Linked DNA regions of Homo sapiens: all the other regions are reported to be linked to region 1. Evidence: microRNA targets listed by miRTarBase, many of them from high-throughput screens and not tested one by one. Region 1 holds a microRNA gene; each other region holds the end of a gene's coding sequence.

Evidence for each region. The annotated mature microRNA hsa-miR-6510-5p reads CAGCAGGGGAGAGAGAGGAGUC and lies in region 1 at 1,831-1,852, shown strand. An mRNA with a match to its seed (bases 2 to 7 or 8) in the 3' UTR can be bound and repressed. Matches are read on the target gene's strand: a 7mer-m8 pairs with bases 2 to 8, a 7mer-A1 pairs with bases 2 to 7 and ends in A, and an 8mer does both.
Region 2: miRTarBase lists SPRYD3 as a target of hsa-miR-6510-5p. Seed matches in the 3' UTR shown: 7mer-m8 at 986-992.
Region 3: miRTarBase lists MCRIP2 as a target of hsa-miR-6510-5p. Seed matches in the 3' UTR shown: 7mer-m8 at 5,522-5,528.

Annotation. Positions count from the first base shown.
Region 1 is chr17:41,511,864-41,519,045 of GRCh38, reverse strand. It overlaps MIR6510 (microRNA 6510), which reads left to right and starts at 1,829; the gene lies at 1,829-1,882. KRT15 (keratin 15) reads left to right here and starts at 156. Exons shown (of 8, transcript NM_002275.4): 1 at 156-716; 2 at 1,881-1,963; 3 at 2,082-2,238; 4 at 2,781-2,942; 5 at 3,036-3,161; 6 at 3,354-3,574; 7 at 4,372-4,397; 8 at 4,926-5,301. The coding sequence starts at 219. The coding sequence ends at 5,023. RefSeq lists an enhancer at 1,521-2,405.
Region 2 is chr12:53,059,608-53,066,789 of GRCh38, reverse strand. SPRYD3 (SPRY domain containing 3) reads left to right here. Exons shown (of 11, transcript NM_032840.3): 9 at 98-217; 10 at 304-476; 11 at 824-2,474. The coding sequence ends at 958. TNS2 (tensin 2) reads right to left here. Exons shown (of 29, transcript NM_170754.4): 18 at 6,532-7,182; 19 at 6,235-6,385; 20 at 5,526-6,115; 21 at 5,321-5,410; 22 at 4,850-4,975; 23 at 4,545-4,637; 24 at 4,337-4,414; 25 at 4,093-4,170; 26 at 3,533-3,701; 27 at 3,373-3,441; 28 at 3,198-3,227; 29 at 2,411-3,046. The coding sequence ends at 2,908. Among named protein-coding and RNA genes, the nearest start is that of MIR6757, 6.3 kb to the right of the region's middle. RefSeq lists an enhancer at 350-851.
Region 3 is chr16:646,736-653,917 of GRCh38, reverse strand. It overlaps MCRIP2 (MAPK regulated corepressor interacting protein 2), which reads right to left. Exons shown (of 5, transcript NM_138418.4): 3 at 6,374-6,501; 4 at 6,034-6,135; 5 at 5,444-5,798. The coding sequence ends at 5,728. It overlaps WDR90 (WD repeat domain 90), which reads right to left and starts at 4,553. Exons shown (of 41, transcript NM_145294.5): 1 at 4,492-4,553; 2 at 4,064-4,155; 3 at 3,751-3,927; 4 at 3,556-3,664; 5 at 3,209-3,379; 6 at 2,815-2,923; 7 at 2,652-2,719; 8 at 2,171-2,274; 9 at 1,879-2,091; 10 at 1,383-1,451; 11 at 467-577; 12 at 248-393; 13 at 115-172. The coding sequence starts at 4,501. It overlaps LOC105371038 (a long non-coding RNA gene), which reads left to right and starts at 4,605. Exons shown (of 2, transcript NR_135177.1): 1 at 4,605-4,963; 2 at 5,303-5,460. RefSeq lists silencers at 4,179-4,308, 4,419-4,518 and enhancers at 3,694-4,516, 5,939-5,988.

The DNA of each region.
Region 1 (7,182 bases):
AATAGAAGAGAAAAACTTCACATGACCCACTCAAGGTGTGCAGGCAGCTGTGTTTGTCAGGAAGGCAGAAGGAGTTGGCTTTGCTTTAGGGGAGGAGACGAGGTCCCACAACACCCTCTGAAGGGTATATAAGGAGCCCCAGCGTGCAGCCTGGCCTGGTACCTCCTGCCAGCATCTCTTGGGTTTGCTGAGAACTCACGGGCTCCAGCTACCTGGCCATGACCACCACATTTCTGCAAACTTCTTCCTCCACCTTTGGGGGTGGCTCAACCCGAGGGGGTTCCCTCCTGGCTGGGGGAGGTGGCTTTGGTGGGGGGAGTCTCTCTGGGGGAGGTGGAAGCCGAAGTATCTCAGCTTCTTCTGCTAGGTTTGTCTCTTCAGGGTCAGGAGGAGGATATGGGGGTGGCATGAGGGTCTGTGGCTTTGGTGGAGGGGCTGGTAGTGTTTTCGGTGGAGGCTTTGGAGGGGGCGTTGGTGGGGGTTTTGGTGGTGGCTTTGGTGGTGGCGATGGTGGTCTCCTCTCTGGCAATGAGAAAATTACCATGCAGAACCTCAATGACCGCCTGGCCTCCTACCTGGACAAGGTACGTGCCCTGGAGGAGGCCAATGCTGACCTGGAGGTGAAGATCCATGACTGGTACCAGAAGCAGACCCCAACCAGCCCAGAATGCGACTACAGCCAATACTTCAAGACCATTGAAGAGCTCCGGGACAAGGTGAGTCCTCGGATGTCAAAGAGAGGGGAGCAGGTGGCTGGTACCCTGTACACAGCTCTAATGTCAGTGTTACTGCTGACTCAAGGAAATCCTTTCCTGCCCAGGCAATGACTGTCTGGTATGTAATCTCAGCAAATTTGGAATGCACCTGCTGTCCAGGTGCAGAGGCCAGTGCACATCTTCTCAACTTGGTGGTGCTGGGGGAGGGAGAGAGGGGTCTTGGGAATCTGGTTAGGACCAACAGGGGCACAGGTGGGGGCAATTATAAAGAGCCAGAGGCAGTAGCTCACACCTGTAATCCCAGTGCTTTGGGGGGCCAAGGTGATAGGATTGCTCGTGTCCAGGATTTAGAGGCTGCAGTGAGCTATGACTGTGCCACTGCACTCCGGCCTAGGTGACAGAGTGGAACCTGTATCTAATTAAATAAAAATAATTAAAAAAAAAGAGCAACTCGCCCTCCCTACCTCATGCACCCTGCAGGCTTCTGCATAAAGTATTCCTTTACCTCTTTTGCAAGAATGGGATTGGAGTGTGGCCTCATGAGTTCCAGATGCTAGAACCTCTTGTCTTTTCCTATAAAGAGGTCTTTTGTGCCAAAAGTACTGTTGGGTCTTAGGAGACCTGGGAACTCATTACACATTCTGCCACCCACTCACTCACCATTTTACTCCCTAAGACTGGGTTCCTCATTCGTAAAATGCCTTCTTAACTGCCCTCCAGGTTGCTACTGGCTGGAATGTTCTGTAGATCCATGGCTGTGTCCAAGGTGTGCAGGAGGCAGTGACCATGAGTTGTCCACAGTGGGGCTGGTGGAGTGTCTCTGAGAGAGCTATTGTCAGAGCTGGCTGCACCCCACTGCCCCACTCTCCTGGGCAACCAATTCCCACAGGCAATACTGCCTCCTTGGTCTTTCGTGCCCTGGAGATAAGGAAGGCAGCTCCTCAGGTGTCTCAAGGAGGCTGGATGGGACAAAACAAGAAATGGACACTGAAAGTGAGGCTGGACTTTGCCCACCCCAGAAGCCGTACAGATTTTTGTTGGTGGTGTCAGAGGGGTGATTGTCAGTGAGGGGTGATTTTCAATGAGGGGCTGGCCTTGGGTGCAGAGCAGAGAGCAGCAGGGGAGAGAGAGGAGTCCTCTAGACACCGACTCTGTCTCCTGCAGATCATGGCCACCACCATCGACAACTCCCGGGTCATCCTGGAGATCGACAATGCCAGGCTGGCTGCGGACGACTTCAGGCTCAAGTGCGCTCCCCCGTCTCTCTCCTCTTCCTGCATTGCCCACTTTACTTGGCCTTCTCCTGGCTCTGACTCAGGCAGCCAAGACCCCTCCCACTTCCTTCTTTGGCCTCCCTCTCCTCAGGTATGAGAATGAGCTGGCCCTGCGCCAGGGCGTTGAGGCTGACATCAACGGCTTGCGCCGAGTCCTGGATGAGCTGACCCTGGCCAGGACTGACCTGGAGATGCAGATCGAGGGCCTGAATGAGGAGCTAGCCTACCTGAAGAAGAACCACGAAGAGGTGAGAGCTGGCCCCCATCACCCCTGAACCCGAGAGAGGTGGGGAACCTCTTCCCAAAACTCACTTAAATTGCCCAGAGGGAAAGACAGTGGCTCCAGGAAGCCCTCCCAGATTTTCACGAGATTAAGTCAGTGGGAGGCAGAGTGGGGCTGTTGGTACTTCCTCATAGTTGGCCTGGGGCTTAGTGGTTCAGAAACACACCTACCCCACAAAACCAGGTGTCCTCATGGAGAGGAAGGGGCAGTGTCTGGTAGCCCAGGCCCACAGCCAGCCCAGGTGGCCCGTATGAATGGTTGACTTCCTGATTGGCTTTGTGAGCTCACATCAGGGCCCTACAGTCTCGGGGTCCTCCCTTGGTAGGACCTAGAGCAGCAGAGAACTCCTTAGAGCTGAGGGGTCCATGTGACCAAACCTCTTCATGTGCAATGGGGAACAGCGGTTGGGGTGTGTTACGGGCAGAGCCAGGATTGGCATGTGTGACGCCAGACTCTCAGGTCTCTCTTCTGCTCTCCGTCTCTAAGTGGGTCCCTCCCATCCTGCAGGAGATGAAGGAGTTCAGCAGCCAGCTGGCCGGCCAGGTCAATGTGGAGATGGACGCAGCACCGGGTGTGGACCTGACCCGTGTGCTGGCAGAGATGAGGGAGCAGTACGAGGCCATGGCGGAGAAGAACCGCCGGGATGTCGAGGCCTGGTTCTTCAGCAAGGTGGGCCTTATATCCTGCCCTGCCCTTCCTGCCCCAGGTCCCTGAGTCTCCGAGGAGGCCCCGGGGCTCACTTCTGTTGTGCATGACCTACAGACTGAGGAGCTGAACAAAGAGGTGGCCTCCAACACAGAAATGATCCAGACCAGCAAGACGGAGATCACAGACCTGAGACGCACGATGCAGGAGCTGGAGATCGAGCTGCAGTCCCAGCTCAGCATGGTACGGCCACTCGCGCCCCATCCCAGCCTCTCGGGTGGTAGAAGCTCCCACTCTTCCTGGCTATTTAAGCCTTGGAGTTCTCAAGCCCCCTCAAGAGGTGGTTCCCTGAACTCCATTCAGTGCCCCCTCCCTGCTTGCCCTCAGTGGCTTCCTTTCTAGCCTGATGTGTCTATGCATCTGTCACTCCCCCAGAAAGCTGGGCTGGAGAACTCACTGGCCGAGACAGAGTGCCGCTATGCCACGCAGCTGCAGCAGATCCAGGGGCTCATTGGTGGCCTGGAGGCCCAGCTGAGTGAGCTCCGATGCGAGATGGAGGCTCAGAACCAGGAGTACAAGATGCTGCTTGACATAAAGACACGGCTGGAGCAGGAGATCGCTACTTACCGCAGCCTGCTCGAGGGCCAGGATGCCAAGTAGGCGCCTGGGCACAGGGGAAGGAGTGATGAGGGCTGCTTGTGGCTAGGGTGCAGGGTCATCCTAAGGGAATGGCAGGGTGTCCCTAAGCAGCCTTGAGGGACTGTGAAAAGAGAACTGAGCAAGGAGGGAGGATCTGGACTCCTCACTCTGGTCCTTGGCTGTTACCTGGGACAGGTCACTTCCTCTCTCTGGATCCGTGTTTCTTCTGTAAATGATAGAGGCTGGGCTAGTGGTAGTTAAGATCTAGTGCTCATTCCATTCTCTGCATGAGATAGATGGGTATTCTTGTAGTTCAGAATCTTGACCAGCTCAGTGGCTCATGCCTGTAATCCCAGCACTTTGGGAGTCCAAGGCGGGTGGATCACTTGAGGTCAGGAGTTCGAGACCAGCATGGCCAATATGGTGAAACCCCGTCTCTACTAAAAATACAAAAATTAGCTGGGCGTGGTGGCGGGTGCCTGTAATCCCAGCTACTCGGGAGGCTGAGGCACAAGAATCACTTGAACCCGGGAGGCGGAGGTTTCAGTGGGCTGAGATCGTGCCACTGCACTCCAGCCTGGGCGACAGAGTGAGATTCCGTCTCAAAAAACAAAACAAAACAAAACAAAATCTGTCTACTTGGGGATAGCAGGCCTGGATGGGCTAGCAGGATGTCCCACCCCTAGAGGAGTCAGATGTGTGGGTGGTGGTGGTGTAGGGTCTGAAGAACACTGCATAGCTATCTACATGAGCTTCCCTTACGGACACTTGAGCTTGTGCCCTTTGCTTAAATCAGCTTCCCTCTTTCTTTCAGGATGGCTGGCATTGCCATCAGGGAAGGTAGGAAGGCTTTACTCTTCTGGTGTGGGGTGGGGAGGGGAGATGTTGAAGCCACCACCCCCTTCGGAATAGGGAGGAAGGAGAAAGAGCCCAAACATCCCATTAGGTGGGAACATTCCCATTCATTAGATGCCTCTTCCCCAGTGGGAACTTCTGTCAGCCCCAGGTGAGATTGCAGCTGGTGATTTATTGAGAAACTTCCAGGTTGAGTAGGCTTCATTCAGGGCATGTCTCTCCCCCAGGCCCCATCTTCATACACTTCCGCTAAGATGCCCACAATTCATCCCCCTTCATGTGCAGCTTGAAAAACCCTGACATTGTTGCTCCCTGCCGGGCATACCTGCCATTGCCACTGCCCATCTCTGTGATGAGGAATTCAACACCAGATCTCTGGCAGCTCTTGAGGGATTGGCCAGTGGCCATTCTCAGGGGTGCTGTCTAGTTTTCCCAGAGCCCCGCCAAGGTCCTGGCCACCGTGGCAGAGCGGGGAGGTTCCCCCACTCTAAAGCCTACTCCTTCTCTCTCTAGCCTCTTCAGGAGGTGGTGGTAGCAGCAGCAATTTCCACATCAATGTAGAAGAGTCAGTGGATGGACAGGTGGTTTCTTCCCACAAGAGAGAAATCTAAGTGTCTATTGCAGGAGAAACGTCCCTTGCCACTCCCCACTCTCATCAGGCCAAGTGGAGGACTGGCCAGAGGGCCTGCACATGCAAACTCCAGTCCCTGCCTTCAGAGAGCTGAAAAGGGTCCCTCGGTCTTTTATTTCAGGGCTTTGCATGCGCTCTATTCCCCCTCTGCCTCTCCCCACCTTCTTTGGAGCAAGGAGATGCAGCTGTATTGTGTAACAAGCTCATTTGTACAGTGTCTGTTCATGTAATAAAGAATTACTTTTCCTTTTGCAAATATCTCTTGGCAGTATGTCCAGTTTTTCTTGATGGGGTCCTGGTTGGCCTCTGATCTCTGAGGAGACCCAGGGTCCACATGGTGATATCTCCCCCCACTTTGGCCTCTTCCCTGCGTGGCCACAATTCTTTTGGGTACCCAGGGCACCAGTGGCTGGGACAAACATAGTGCTACTCAGGTAATTTGCTCTTCTGGGTCACCATGGGGTGACCAGGGAAGTGAGGGTGGGGAGGTTCCCTAAAAAGAGTTTGGTGTACCCAGCACAGAACTCAACACATCTAATAATTATGAATATTTACCAAGTGACTGATCGCGTTGATTGTCTTTGTTCGCCATCCCATGGCTGGCATGATGCCAGGCACGCTCACCCATGGGGCTCATTTAATCCTCACCACTGTAGGTGGTCAGGATTTATTATTCCCACCTTAGAGATGAGGTCACTGGAGGCAGAGAGAAGAATAACTTGCCCCGGGCCTTGTGGATGGATGATAAGTAGCAGGGCTGGGCCTGGGCCTGTGTCTGTAGGACTCCAAGACCAGGGCTTGCTCTAGGACCCCAGGGCCCTTTTCACAGCCTGCTGCCAGGACCCTGCTCCTTGCTTCTGACCCTCACCACATGTGCTGCTCCAATCTCCCATCCTTTCTAGCCAGGCATAACACCTCCAGAGTGGCCGAGCCAGTTCCCAATTTGACTCCCCTGCAGAGCTGGCCCCATCCCCCCTGAAGCTGATGCCTCCTCCCAAAAGGCACTTATATTGCCCAGAGGGAAAGACACCAGCTCCAGGAAGCCCTCGAGATTTTCCCAAGATTAAGTTGAAAGCATCATCAACCCCTCTTACCCTCCTTAATCCAAATCCTGCTCCTGCTCCCCCATCCCCAGCATCTCCACCAGAGTCCTTCTAGAGCGGTAGCATCCATGCACACATTGTTTGTGGCCTCTGGTCTCAGGCTGTTTTCTCTGAGCTCTTGCATTTATCGTCCCAAACCGAGGGCAGAAAATGAGGAAGCACAGAACTCTGGGTGCAGAGGCTGGGCTGGCTCAGGAACTGGGGTGAGAATTGGGGGTGGGGAGGGAGAACCGGTTTCTTGGTCTCACTGGGAAGAGCAGATTGGAGGTGCTTCTGTCTTTGGAGAATCCGATCTTTTGGGGGAAGGGTCAAGCCCTCTGAGAGGGTCCCCATGTGTCTTGTTGTGCAAAGCCTCTTCCCCACAAACCCCTGGTTGGAGGTAAAGTGGTGCCTGCTCTTTCTAGGGGAGATTTAATTAAGAATGTGTCTCCTGAGAACGCACACAGGTGAGACTTCCTGGGGCTGGAGGAAGGAAATGGAATTTAGTGAGTGTCTATGATATGTCAGGCCCTGGGTTGGGCATTCCGGGATGGCATCTCATTAATTCTTCCAATAGCTCTTTAAGTTAGTATCAGCCTTCAGCGTCAGTTTCAGAAGAGGAAACTGAGGCCTGGAGAAGTTTAGTAACCTGAATGAGGTCACAAGCCAGGAAATGGTGAAGCTGGGTCTGGGACTGGTCGCTCTGATTCCAGACCCTCGCTTTGCCCTTTAAGTCGTGAGGTGACAGAAGCTGCAACACTTTTCTTAAGAGATATGCTAACTAAAAATCTAAAACCCATCTTTTGTTTTTAAATTTTTTATAAGAGGCCAGGTCTCGCTCTGTTGCCCAGGCTGGTCTCAGCTCCTGGCCTCAAGTGATCCTCCTGCCTTAGCCTCCCGAGTAGCTGGGATTATAGGAGTGAACTGCTGCGCCCGACAGAAACCCATTTCTTAACCTCTGCGGGCAGCATGCCAAATGCCATACAGTCATTAACGTCAGAAAGATTGTCCTCACGTCTAACCTTAGTCTCTCATGCTGTGGTTTAAGTTCACCCTG
Region 2 (7,182 bases), not on the chromosome of region 1:
CTGAGGGGTGGGAAGTGTTCAGCTTCATGAGCCACTCTGGGGGTGTGGTGTCAGCCCTCCTTCCTCAAGTGTTTGTCCTTTCCCCTCCCTCCAACAGACGATGGGAAGATCTTCCATGGCAGTGGTGTGGGGGACCCCTTTGGGCCACGCTGTTACAAAGGGGACATCATGGGCTGTGGAATCATGTTCCCCCGGGACTACATTTTGGACAGTGAGGGTGAGTGGGGTAGGGGTGGCCAGCCAGGCTGCTTGGGGCCGAGGGTGGAAAGGCACCACAGGAGCTCAGGTTTCCTGGTCTCCTAGGGGACAGTGATGACAGTTGTGACACAGTGATCCTGTCTCCGACTGCCCGGGCCGTCCGGAACGTGCGGAATGTCATGTACCTGCACCAGGAAGGGGAAGAGGAAGAGGAGGAAGAGGAAGAGGAAGAGGATGGGGAAGAGATAGAGCCGGAGCATGAGGGCAGGAAGGTGGTGGTGAGTACGGAGAGTTTGAGGTGGGACCAGGGTTTTTGGGTCTGGGCAAAGGGTGGGTATTAGTGGGGAACAGAACTCACAACCAGGGTGGGAAAGACGGGAAGCTCTGGCGTTGCCCAAGGGCTGTTCCCAGCTCCAGGGGTTGCTGAGATCGGGAGACGGTCTTGGGAGGCTGTTTTCCGGCCTCAGCACGCCCTCTGGTGGTCACTTCCCATAACACCTTAACTGCCCCTCTCCAGCCCCGCTGGAAGCTGGGGTGATTGGGGTTCAGGCCTGTGGAGCTCCAGCATCCTCAGGGAAGAGGCCACAGCCTGCTTGCTCCATTCTTCTCCCCACCTCCTCCCCAGGTTTTCTTCACTCGGAATGGCAAGATCATTGGGAAGAAGGATGCTGTTGTTCCTTCTGGAGGCTTCTTCCCCACCATTGGAATGCTGAGCTGCGGGGAGAAAGTCAAAGTAGATCTGCACCCCTTGAGTGGCTAGGGCCTCCCCTCCAGACCTGCTCCTTCTCCCTGCTCACCCTCTGCTGGGCCAGGCACCCAGTTCCTGACTTCCCAGAGGCTTCGTTTACCCAGCAGGCCCCTGGAGGTGTGTAGTCACTCTGCCCCCACTGGCTCAGGCCCCTGTCACGCTTCTCTGTGCCCACGTTTCTGACCTGGTGCTGCCACTGTTGTCAGTCCCTGGGCCTGAGTCCCTGGTTGGACAGGAATGGACCCAAAGAATGGTGTTGGTATGTGGGTGGTCCCACTCGCTTTGGTCAGTGGGCTTCTGGGTCCCCCTTTCCCTCACCGGCCCTGTGTGGGTGGAGAGGCGTGAGCACCCTATCTCAGCTGCTATTCGGGCATGATGCTTTGTAGAGGGTAGAGTAGACAGCCCCCTCCCCTACTCACCATGGTATTTCTCCTTGAATTCCTCTTTCTTGTTTTCTTTCCTGGTTGTGTGAACCAGTTGCTGCTGTCATACCCCTGGCAGGGCCAGGGGACCTCTCTTTGGTCATCTCTGTCCTTTCACTGGCTGCTGCCCCAGGAAGACTCCTCTAGGCTCTCCATCTTTCCCTTGAGAGCTGGCTCCCCACCCCAACCTGCTCAGGCACCACAGAGGATCTAGGTCTCTGGCTCCCCATACCTGGACCCACATGGGTGGGTGCCTGTTGCATGTTTAAGAGAGAGGGGCTGTGAGGTGACAGGGCACTAGGGCCTTCACTCCTTTCTCCCCTTCCATCCTTTCTTTACCAGTGCCACCCATGTCCCTAGCTCCCGGGTATTGGGGCTGAGGCTCTGGGGCCTGTCTCCCTGCCAGCGTGAGGGCAAGACCCCAGAGCCTTAGCTGAGCAAGCCCAGAGGGGCAGCGTGGCCCCTCCCTCCCCTTTTCCTGCCCCGTCCCATGCCTCAGCTTGCTGCTTGTGCCAGTTGCCTGTTTCGCTTCAGTGTTTGATTCTAGCACTTACATGTGTCCTCCCCACCAAGCCCTCTATCTCCTTCTAATCCTTCAACCCCTGGCCCCCTCCCCGTAACAGTGACTTTTCCAGGGAGGAAGAGGCAGCAGGAGCTGTTGGCCTTGGTTTGCACAGAGCGGGTAGGGCTGTAGGGAAAGCGGGTGAGCTGTTGTGCTGCTGGGCCTCCCTTTGGCCCTCGCTTCCCACCCTACGATGTATGAAATGTATGTACAGACCAGAGATGTTTATACAGCCGATAAAGATGGAGTTTCCGTATTTATCAGTATGGCCGGAACCAGGAGCCTTTCTAGTCCACTGGGCTAGGAACAGGACTGCTGGATGGGGGCAGCCGAAGGCAGCTTGCTCATGGGGAGATGTGGACCAATGTTGGGCCAGGGATGGGAATCATATGTTCCATGGGCCTGGCTACAGGCCTGAGCACAGATACGTCCCCTGGGAGATGAGGCTTTGACCTTCCTGTGAATAAGTGTTGACTCCAATTTCGGCTAAAGTTTATAGAAATTCTTTATTATTAGACAAAAATAGACTCTCTTTTTTCCCCTATTCATGTGATCCTACTCTGAATCTCTGCTCAGAGGAGGCAGTGACTCGCTCCCCACCCCTCTCCCATCCCTGCCGTGCTGGCACCTGCAGCTGGGTGGAACTGGCAGGGGCTGATCCCCTGGAGGGCTGACGTTCTCCTGCAGGTGGGGCTGCCTGATCTCCTTCGGGGCTCAACTGCTGATGCCTCCTCACCCCTCACACACCCATCTCTGCCATCTGCTCACATGCAAGGTCATCTTGTGGGCCTGTCCACTTAACTTAGCAGGCTGGGGGCGGGGAAGGAGAGCAGTGTCCCAGGCCTGATGCCCACTCCTCATTCCTAAGGGAGGGTGCTTTCTCCTGGGTCTCCTGGGTCCAGGCCAGGGGATGTGAGGGCTGTGGGGTGCTGGGAGGGGGGCAGTGTTGATGTGGGCTCTGAGCTTGTGGCCTTCCTTCATTTTCTCTGGCCCAGTAGAACTTTGGTGATGAAGGTGACAATGGCGCCAGCAGGCTGATCTGGGTCAAGCTCTGCAAAGAGGTGACACACATTCTCCCAGGGGCTTCCCGGCTTCTTGGCCACGAAACCAAAGATCCTAGGGGGATAAAGGGTGGGGAAGGGGCTTAACATTCCTTCCACAAGGGAATGTAGCTGGCCTTGGTGAGACAAATCAAATGCCAGCATTGAGAGGACAGCAGCGCCCTGGTCCCTTGGAAGGAAGAGGCTGAATTCGTGGGGAGGCTTACTTGGAGGTGGTCCCGTCTGGGTTGGTCCATCTGCAGAAGGAGAAGAAGGTGAAGATGCACACCCCAGGGGACAGCTGCTGAAGGGGGGCCGGGGCCGGGGCTGGGGCTGGGGCTGGGAGCTGGGACCTGGTGGGACCATGGGGATTTGGGGCAAAGGGTTTGGAGGGAGAGTCACCTCCGGTCTTGAGGGTCAGTGCTGGAGAAGGTGATGCTGTTCACTGGATAATGGCGGCGAAAGAAGAGCCTGCAAGGAGGAGGGTGAGGAAGGTCACACTCAGAAACATGAGCCCCCAGGGGCCTTAAGCATGGGGTTCTACAGGGCTGAGTATACATACTTCCTTTGGTTGTCCGTCAGTGTAATGCCCTGGGCTGACACCTTGAAGTGGACAACAGCTGGTGTCGGGCGGGGGCTACAGCTCAGAGCTGCAGAGCTGGCCCGGGCCACAGCTTGGGGGCCCGTCAGTGACTCTGTCTCCACTGAGGTCAAGTAGAGCACGCTGCAGGCTACAGGGGCAGGGAGTGGGTCAGGGAGGGAGTGCCCATCCCCTAGCCACCCCCACCAGCTCTTGCACATTCCCCAGCTACTGCTGTCACATGCTTTACAATCACATAGGTGACTTGTTAAAAAGGCAGATTCCATGACTCTACTGGATCTACAGTCAGAAGCGAGGCAGAGAAGCCTCCCTGCTACCACCCCATGATCGTCTTGTTCATGAGACTTTGAGAACCTAGGCTGAGGACCCAATTCCTCATCCCCGACAGTATGGGGCTCCCCTGCCCTCATGGGTTGGCCAGGGCTCACCCACCTCAAGGCCTTTCAGTGCCCCATGCCCTGTATCCACAATGCCCCCTTGGTGCCCAGGGAGAGGGAGGGGAGTGGAGGGGAAGTCTCTACCAGCACCCTGACGCAGGAGGTCTGCCGCTGTGCTCATGTTGGTGGGCACTGGAGCCTCTGGGGTCTCTTCCAGAGGATCTGAGGGCAATGAGAACCGACAGGGAAGCTCAGAAGGCAGAGTGTTCCCCAGGCTGGAGCACTCCCTCTGCTTCCCCAAGGGAAGGCGGGGAGCCAAGACCTCTGGATCCTGCTTTGGCTGCAGGGGGTAGGGAGAGGTGGGGAGGACAGATGACCAGACACTCACCTTTGCTGGGAATGCGCAGGCAGCAGGGCAGGGAGATGGGGGAGATGGAGTGCTGGGAGACCAAGGCGGACAGGCTGCCTGTGGGAGAGGAGGTAGGAAAGTCCCGAGATGCCCAGGGTGCCCCGCCTTTCCCTTCCATCCTCCTGAGATCCCTTGGCATCTCCCTAAACCGACCCAACGTAGCCTTCCCCAGGCTCCTGCTTCTCACCAAAGTAGGGCTCACTGGGGCAGCCCTTGATCTTCACCCCTTTGGGCCCAGTCTCGATGAGGAAATGGCGGACCAGCTGTTCCACGGGGTCCCCTGAGAGGAGGCGAGGGGAAGATTGCGGCTTTAGGATTCCAGGTTCCAGCTTCTTCCCTAATGGGATTCTTTCCCGAGCAGCTGAGGTCTTTTCCTACCTCTCCCCTCTACAGCGGCATGGCCAGCACAGCACCCCCACCTGCCCTGTTACCTTGCCTCTGGCACCACCCCCAACTTCATCCCCACCCCACTCAGGTTTGGGTGTTCTGTACCTTTCCAGGGCTGGGCACTGGGTGGCGGTGTGGCCACCTTGAGGGCCAGCCCATAAGCTCCTTGGAATGAATGACTGTCCCTGATCAGGAAGGCCCCAGGGTCCTTGTCCTTCAGCAGGGCAATGGCTGCAGGGTGAGGGGTAGCGGGCAGTGGGGAGGAGTTTTCACAGGGGTGGACTGAGCCCCATGCAGCCCCCCTCCTCTGCTGCCAAGCTCCATGGTCTCTGCCCTGACAGCTGTGGTGGCGGTAAGAGTCTGAGGCCAGGGCTCTAGAGTTCACAGGGGTTTTGACCATGTTGGATCTCACCGCCTTGGCCCAAAGCCCAGAATCACCTGCTGGTAAACACTCAGCCAAGAGTAAACACAGCTCAGACAGGAGGAGCCAAGAGCTTCAACAGGATGGGACTTAAAGCCAAGACAGACACCCTGGAAGGTGGGATGCAGTGGGGTGGGGGCAGGCTGGCTTCTCACCTTGGTCACGGGACAGGTGTGGCTTGTACCAGAACTTGGATGTATCCTGGACAAACTTGACATTGCTTTGGCTCTCTTGTGTAGGAGGCTCTAGGACAGGGAGGGAGTAGGTTCAGACCCCAGGGTACCCGGGTCCCCATCCATGCTACATCCCAGGAGAAAGGGTTCTCTCAAGGTGGCACCAACCCCCTCAAGGCCTTTATACCTGGGGTTTGGGGGACATTATCTGAGAGCAGAGGTGCGAAGGTGACATGGTGACTGATGCCTCTGGCTGGCGATGATGCCTGCTCTGGGCCCCAGGGTCCTGGCTGTTGCCCCGGCCCGGGCAGGTGGCGTTTCTCAGGAAGTGGGGGCTGGCTAAGGCCATTGGTGTCATAGGAGGCAGCCAGGGGGAAAGCAGGTGTAGGTGAGCTCTGAGGCGGCTCTGGGCTGGCCACAAGCCAGGGCATCTGGGAAGGCACAGGAGTGAGGGGAGACCCATCTGGGCTGTCGGGGGGGCCTCGAGGGCCTTGCCAGGGGGCGTGGCGGAGGCCAGGAAGTGTGGTGGGCACAGGGCTCCGAGGACTGGCGCCATCTGAGTGGCCCCCTGGACTCCTTTCCTGAGGCCAGTCACTGGGCGAGCTGGGAGGGAAGGTCGGAGAGACTGGGCTAGGGGCCAGAGGCTCAGGCCCACTTCCCGACGGCAGCTCAGGGGCCTTTCCGGTGCCTGCCTGGGAAACAGGGGGCAAGGCCTCGCCAGGACTCAGTCTCTGAGTGGGCGCTGAGGTGGGGGACCTGGTGTCCTGTCGCCGGGTGCTGTAGGGTGGAAGGGCAGATGGTCAGCAGAGCCCCCATTGTGGCTGCTCCCACCCCACCTGCCTTCATCAACTGCTTGGACAAGAAAGCACTCGAGCATCCCCGGCCCCTCTGCATACCTTTCCTTGCCCTGGACTGGACTGCTGGTGTGCAGGGGCGTGGAGGGACCAGACAACTCTGACGAAGCACTGCATGGGGCATCTCGGGGAGACCGAGGCAGTGTGCTGTGCCCACTGGGGCCCTCCCTCCAGGACACCGGCTCCAGCGACTCTGCAGTGAAGGGGAGAGGTGGGCTGTGAGCAGGATGGGGCTCTTCTGTCTGGCTTAGCTGTTTCTCACCCTGTTCCCCCTTGACTTCCCCACCATCTTCCAGAACCTCCTCTGCCCTGGGCACTCCGCACTCTGGTGCCCCTCACCTGCAGATGCCAAAGGTCCTGCTGAGGCCAGGTGCCCAGGCAATGGGTACCTGTCCCCTCCCTCCTCCGTAGGGATCTCGTAGCTCAGCTTCCTAGATTGTGGATAGGGCGGGCTGCCCGGGGAAATGGAGCCAGCCCGTGGGGAGTGGGCACCAGGGCTGGGATACCCTCTGCCCTCTCCTGGAGAGCCACAGCTATGAGGCACACGGCCATATGCTGGGCAGTAACTGGGAACTGCTCCTCCATAGCTGTATGTCACCAGGGCAGGGTACCCTGGATGCCCATACCTGCCTTCGGGGCACATGGTGTAGGAGCAGCCCTCGTGCCCTTCCTCGCCTGCCTTGGGTGGCTTCAGGCAGCTGTAGTCAGGCATCGGGGCATGGTGATGCCCACAGGCAGGCAAGAGCAGAGGCAGCGGGTGCCCAGGCCGCACTGGGTGCAGGAGAGGCTTGCCAGCCTCACTTGCCCACCCTTCTCCAGCCTCCCTCTCCAGCCGCAGTCCATACAAGGCTGCTGTAGGCAGCGCCAGCTTCTCCTCGCAGGCTGGGCATGGGTATAGGGCAGGCAGCCCAGGGTCCTCCAGGATGACCACCTCCCGGTAGCCTGGGGCGCGGTAGCCAAAGTCCCCAGTGGCTGGTTTCCCCATCTCAG
Region 3 (7,182 bases), not on the chromosome of region 1:
CAGAGCAGGGACCCAGGGTCACATGAAGCTGGAGTTTCAGAAAACCAAGACCCTTCCAGCTGTCTGCGTGCATCAGGACAGCCCCACCCCAACCCGCAGCCAGGGCCCTGTTACCGTCCTCCCGTGGTGGTCCTTGCCAACCCCGCAGAGAAGGGCCCCGCTGTCAGAGAAGCTGTGAACAGGGAGGAGGTGGTCATTGTCGCCTGGGCTGACCCCCTCCCCCTGCATGGGGCAGACCTGTGCTCACCTGAGAGAGCAGACAACGTGCATTGGGCTCCGGAACAGGCACAAGCACCGCCCGGTCTGGAAGTCCCAGAGCCGCATCACACTAGGGGCCCTTGCCTGGGCCGAGGCCAATAGTGAGCTGCTGCCATCCAGCGCCAGGGCGGAGACCTAGGAGGCAGAAGGGTGAGGGAGGGTGTAGGGGCTGCAGGTGTGAGCTGCCCCAGGCCCGGGCAGCACCCACCTTGTCTGTGTGGCCAAGGAAGAAGCGCTGCTCCCCCGTGTCCACGAGCAGGACGACGATGACCGCATGGCAGGGGTACACGACAGCCGCCCCGTCTGGGGTCCACAGGGCCTGGCACAAGGGGGCGGGGGGCTGAGGACCGGTGCTACGCCAGGCCCCTCCTGGCTGCCGGGAGGTCAGCCTCACCTCCCACTCCAGCCCAGGGAGAGGGGGTGGCAGGCCTGGCACACACACCTGGGCACACAGCCACCCAGGGGCAAGAGAGAACACACACCCTGCACACACTACATACACGAGTCACAGGCTGCATGTGTCAAAAGAACAGCTGGAACACTCAAGCAGACACGTGTACACACATGCACAGACGCCTGTCCTCTAAGCCCCGCCTCCAGTGCAAGAAACTCCGGGGTGGGGGTAACAAAAGGCCAAAGGGCCCCCAAACACTCAGAGCAGGCACCCAGCAGGGCCTGACAAGGGCCCAAGGCCACTGAGGCAGAGGGGAAGGCCACCTCCTCTGCCATGGGGCTCCTCTCCTAGAAGGCCCACGTCACCCATGAGGGACCTACAGGTTGTGCCCACAGCCTGGCCCCACACTGCTGGTCTGGATCATCAGAGCTCTAAAGACGTGAGAGCTCTGGGTCTTCGGGGGGAGCACTTAGCCCAGCCAGTGAGTAAGAGATGCCCGTGACCCTGAGAGCCCCCGGGCACCAGGAGGTGACAGCAGCTGTGGGCGGGGCAGATGCCTGAGCACGCGGGAAGCAGCGGACTGCAGGGGGACGGGACCGCTGTGCCAGGGGGGCTCGGGAGCCCACACACAGCCACCACAGGACATAGGTCTCTCCTCTCTCCCCGTTCTGTACTCAGCGCTCGAGCCGGCCAACGAGAGCTGCTCTGGACACAGCCGCAGGAGCCTCACCTGTCTGGTGCCGTGGCCCCCAAAGCCGATGACGCCCTTGAGCCTCAGGACTGGGTCTGGGAGGAAGCCCTGAAACAGCCATTCGCATCAAAGTCCTGGGAGGCTCAGCCAGGTCCCCAGAATGCCCGACCAACTCCGAGCCCCGCCAACCCCTAGCTGGGTCCTGCCTCTCAAGAAGACTGCCCTGGTCCTGGGTGGCTCCTGCTGGCTGTGGTAAGGTGGAAGCTGGGACTCCAGTTGCACTGCCAGACCTTCGAGGGTCCCCCACAGACCACCTGGGGCTGACGCATTGGGGGTGAGCAGAAGCCCTGCCTTACTCTTTGTGGACAGAGATTCTTCCCCAAAGCCGCCTCCCGCCAGCTCTGCTCCTTGCCAGGAGGCTGAACAAGAGGAGACCGTTGGAGGCACATCCGTTCTGAATGCATCTCGGGGCGGGCTACCAGCTGCCCCAGCCCACACCTCACCAGGCCCCGCCTGCTGTGGGATGGGCACTCACTTCGCAGGAGCCGGTGCGGGCCACGGGCACCTCAGCCGACTCGTGAGTCAACACGTGGGTGCCGGCAGCAGCCGTGTGGATGTCAGAGGCCTCCAGCTGGGCCCAGGGCTCAAGGCTATGGAAACCGGGGCCATCCGCGTTGGAGGCGTCTGAGCGCTCTTGGGACAGGCTGACCTCCGGGAAGGGCCTGGGTGCCAAGGCGGCCCGGCCGGACTGCTGGGGGACAAGTGCCCATCAGCGTCCTGGGCCATCACACCCCAACCCCATCTCATAGGGCGAAGGGGGTACTCACGGCTGTGGGGCTGGGCGTCTGGACCACTGGAGACACACTGAACCGCACAGGTTTGCTGGAGGCCACCGGGCAAGGGAGAGGCTGTGGCCCCGGCCCCAGGAGGACTAGAACAGAGCAAAGAACCCCAGTGACCCAGGGGCCAGCTGTGCAGATGCCTGGTGAGGGTGACGCCTGGGGAGGGCAGCAGCAAGTGGCCCAGCCTCACCGGCTCTGCAGGACCCACAGCCAGTATCCCCACTTCCACCCTAGGCCCTGAAAGTCTCCTCTTCCAGCTAGAAAGCTTGGGGCCCCCGGGTACCCCTCACACAGACTTCCCACCCTCGTGGTTCTGGGAACTCGGACAACCTACGGGCTTCCCTGGGTCCCTGCACCAGCTGCAGCCAGCACACCACTGGGTCCTTTCCCAGCCCTGCCCTCTCCTACCGAGCCCCACGCACCCTACAGGCCTTAACCTGGGTCCCCGCTGACCCCCCAGACCCACCTGCCTCAGGAGGGGAACAGCTCTTCTCAATCGGCTTGGAAGGCACTTTCAAGCTCTCACTTGGAAACCTTGGCAGGCAGAGGGAGAGTCAGTGTCTGGGGGCCCAAGGGCCACCCACCCTCCCACCACCGAGGCCTCCCTCGAAAGAAGCAGAACCACTCACCGGACGTGGATGTAGCGGTCATGCCAGCTCTCTCCCTTGGGCACAGGGAATGCCATTTCCCGAGGCATAGGAGTCACGGGCAGCTTTGCCCACTGGGCCCCAGAGATGGCTACAAGGAGCAGGGTTGTTCCAGGTCAAGGGAGGCTGTTTAGCCACCTGAACACAGGGCACCCGCCAAGGCACTGCCACGCCACCAGCCCAGCCACCGCCCCACCCCAGGGCTGCCTCTGGGATGGGTTCTGACCCCAGGGCTGCCTCTGGGATGGGTTCTGGCCAGAGCTCAGAGACAGCACAGCTCGAGCACTGTATTTTCCCAAGCACCCTGGACTTGGGCCTCTCCAGGGCTGAGAGCATGGGTGAGATATGGAGTGGGGAGTGCAGGTGCGGCCCTCACCAGGCTCAAAGCACAGGTCACTGGTGTACAGGTTCCTGACCAGCAGGCTGGCGCACAGCCTGATGCTCTTGAGATGGCCGTAGCACCGGTTCAGGTAGACCAGGAGAACGTCCTGCAGATCGAGCTGCAGGCAGGTCCAGCGGGCTCCGGAGGGGGCCAAACCCACCAGATCTGCAGGATGGGCACTCAGGGTCAGCGCCCACCCTCCTGACAGCCCGCGACTCCCAGAACTGTGAGCTTGTGCCCCCGCCAGGTTGTCCTCCAGGCCGCAGAGGAGCCTCACTGGGCCTGCACCAACTCCCTCCAGCCACCTGTCCTGGATCATCCACACCCCATCTTGGTGTCACCTCTCTGAGGTGTCCTGGCCTCCAGGACCAAGGGAAACTGGAGCCACGTGGCCGTAGACTTAAACTCCTTGAAGAGGTTGGAGAAAGACACACGGATGACTTGGTTGTCCTGTGGGGACGGAGCAGGGCCGTGAGGAGACAGGGGCCGCAGGGGTGCCGGGGCTCCCACGCAGCCCCCAGCCGCGGGCTCCGTACCTTGGAGGACACATCGAGGTGGATGACGAAGTGCTTGCTGGGCAGGGGCCGAAAGAGCACATACAGGTATCGTCCCGTCAGCCCCAGAGACTGGGTGCTGCTCTTAGGGAGCTGGATGTAGTTGGCGGCAGAGACTGAGCCCCGAATGCGATACACGGCGCCCTTCAGGGTCTTGTCCTGGAGAAGCGGGAGCCCGCATCACCGACAGCACCCAGAAGAAGTGCAGCGGGGGCGAGGGGGCCCTCGGGGGCGGGGCAGCTCTCCTGGGGGCAGGGCAGGGGTGTGGGCTCCGGGCGAGCCCCCGGCCGCCTACCGTGACCACGGCCACGTCCCCCTGCTTGGCGGAGCGCTTCCACTCGTCCACCCGGAAGTGTCTGAAGACGTTGAGGAACGGGTGCTGCCACGCTGCGGGGAGCGGGCGCCGGGCGTCAGGGGACTCGGCCACGCGAGCCGGGGCCACTGCGGGGCTGGGCCGGGCCTCGGGGACCAGGCAGGAGCCGGGGCTCTCCGCGCCTTCCCCGGCGACGCCAACGCCAGCTAGGCTGGCGGGACGAGGCCGGGCGCCCGAGGGAAGCCAAGCTCCGGGAGCCCGAGGGTGGGCGCCCGGCAGACGGGACCCTGCCTGAGCGGGGACTCTGGCCTCAGGGCCTAGGCGGGGGCCCTGAGCGCTCCGGCCGCCGACCCTGGACCCCGGAACCCCGGAACCCGGGATCCTCGGGACCCCCGCCAGCCGCGCGCTACCTCGGGCCATGGCGCCGCCGCTCGAGCTTCCCGCCTAGGCCTCCGCGCGCCCAGCGCAGAGTACGCCCCGCGACGCCAGGCAACGGCTGCCTGGCAACGGTGCCACTTCCGCCATTACTTCCGCCGTCATGGCGGCGCCCTGGCCACGTGACCTCCCCGGTGGGAGTACCCCGCTCACGTCAGCGGCCTCCAGGGTTGCTCCAGCCGCGAATCCCGCTGCCCTTTGCCCCGCGGGCCTCCCAAGGCAGCCCCCTGTTAGCCCGACCGGCTTCGAAGCCCGCGCCGGTTGCGGATCCTCCGCCGCGCCCACCTGTCAGCGCCTCGGCCGGCCGGGGCTCCCGCCGCATGCAAGCAGCGAGGCGAGGTCGCGCTGAGGCCTGGCCATGCCACGGACGGCCGGGCCTCACCCTGCCGCTCTCTCGCCGTCCAGAGGCCCCTGCTCCACACCTGGGTACCCTGGGTCCTGACTCAGGTGGGCTGGGTCATCCCCGTCCATCAGGGAAGGTAGTGCGGGCGCCCGCGGAGGGGCTGGTTCCCACGTTCGTCCTATCAGGTTCCCCACGTACTCCTTCGCCCAGTGTCCTGCGGCCGGGCCCGGCGGATTCAGAATGGGACCTGGCGTTCTGAGACACAGCCCCAGTGCCGGTAGTGGGGGGTGGTGGACTGCACTCCGGGGCCATTTAATGTCTTTAGGCCTTGAGTCTCGGCTTCGGTCCCAGTCAACGCCAACGGGAGAGGAAAGAGGAACCAAGTGGGGTCCCCAGACTTCCAAGCAAGGTGGGCTGGCTAACGTCCCTCCTACCTGTCGCAGGGCAGCTGGGTGAGAAGCTAACGGCTTGAAGGAACAGGGCTACAAGGGGAGTTTGTGCTGGGCCTGGCGTCCCAGGCTGTGGACTGGAACTGGACATGAGAACCCCCCCTACACCCTCCCAAGTCAAAGACACTCCAAAAAGACAGTTTCTCCACTTTATTAGCCTGGAGCTCCTCCCTGCCAGCCCCAGGGGCTGGTCGCTGGTCCCTGGGCACAGTGAGCAGGGCTGAGGTCAGACGGGTTCGGCCCTTGGCCATGGCAGCTTGGTTGGGACAGCCGGGCCAAGGGAAAAAAAGGTGCAAAAGTCCAAATGCTGGCACTTCAGGTGTGGCCGGCACCCAGCCAGGCGCAGTGGGTGGGCAGGGCGCCATGCTTCTCTCCTGGCGACAGGTCGGCCGTGTAGCAGCGCCCCCTCCCAGCAGCCACTAGGAACAGCTGGTGATTCTCGCCAGGAACTGCTGCGCCCACCACTCGTCTAGGTCAATGGGCACAAAGTCTGTGGGCAGAGAAGGCTGGGCAGTGATGCTGCCTCCCAGGCCAGCCGGCAAGTCTCCCCTGGAGCTAACCACAAGCCGCTCACCCGGACTCCGAGTGCGGCAGGCGCTGGGAAGAAGGGGTTTCTGCACAAGAGTCCCCTCCCTCATCCCCTGGGGTGGGAACCTGGCAGGGCCTGGGTCAGGATCAGAGGGGCTGGGGGGTCTCTCCTGGGGGGACAGGGTTGGGGGGCTCACTCTGCAGCCGGGGATTGGGGGTCCTCTCCACGTACTGCACAGGCCTTGGCCCGCCCTCACCGGCTGGGCCACCATCCAGCTGCTGTTGCACCTGCTGCCAGGCTGTGGGAGGAGGGCAGTCGGGCTGAGCCAGGTCCCAGGCACCCCATCGCCCACCCAGGGCCTGATGGTCACCCTGGACTCCAGCCCCACACAGGGCTGGTCACAGGACACAAGGGCAGAGTGCCAAGGAAAAGCACAGCCATGCAGCGGCTGTGGGTCAGCTTGAAGTGGGGCCATCCCGGGTCCATGGTTTTGCGACCCAGCAGCCTATGCCGCACCCTCTGGCCCCGCTCGCTACCTTCGGACACAAAGCGGACATTCTCCTCGTGGGCCACTGTGTAGGTCTCCTGGGTCCCCTCGAAGGATGGGGACGTGGAGGGGGCCCGCCGGCCATTCACACGATTGAACACAAGCCTTGGCCCTGGACTGCAGGAAGGGAGGAGACGGACATGGTTGGTGCCCATCCCAGGTGCGGTGCTGCCTGGCAGAACTCAGGAGCAGCCCCGGGCCAGCCCACTTTCCCCAGACTTGGCCAGCCTAGGCACTTCCTGAACCAGAGAGAGCAGCCACCCACAGCAGCCGGTGGCCCAGGCCTCTCTTGCAGTCCCCAAGCCATCGGCAGCTCAGCTCACACCTGCAGCCCTGTGTCCTGAGGGAAGTGAGTGACTGTAGGGTGGGGGCCTCAGTCTTAGAGTGTCCCAAACCTTTGGTCGGGCCCCACTCAGTACCCCTCCCCGAGGGTCTTGCAGGTGCCCATGCTGCCACCTGCATCCCATCAGCAGCCCAGATTCTGACCTGAGCCACGACCCAGTCCATGACCATGTCTCTCTGCCCCAACCCCCCCACTCTGGGTGTAGTTCTAGGCCACATTCTCGCCCCACAGAAGCACCTCCATCTCCACGATGTTTCCCTCCATGGACGGATGGACCTGGACGGGAACGGGGGCCTTTGCCCTCTCCCTGGCTGCCCCCACGTCCCATGGGATGAGGACTGGGTGCCGGGATGGGCAGTCCCTGAGTCGGGAGAGTGACTATAACCCTCGCCCACTCCCCACCGGCCCGAGACAAGGGGCGATGCCAAAGGAGATGGCTCCCGCAGTGCCGCACG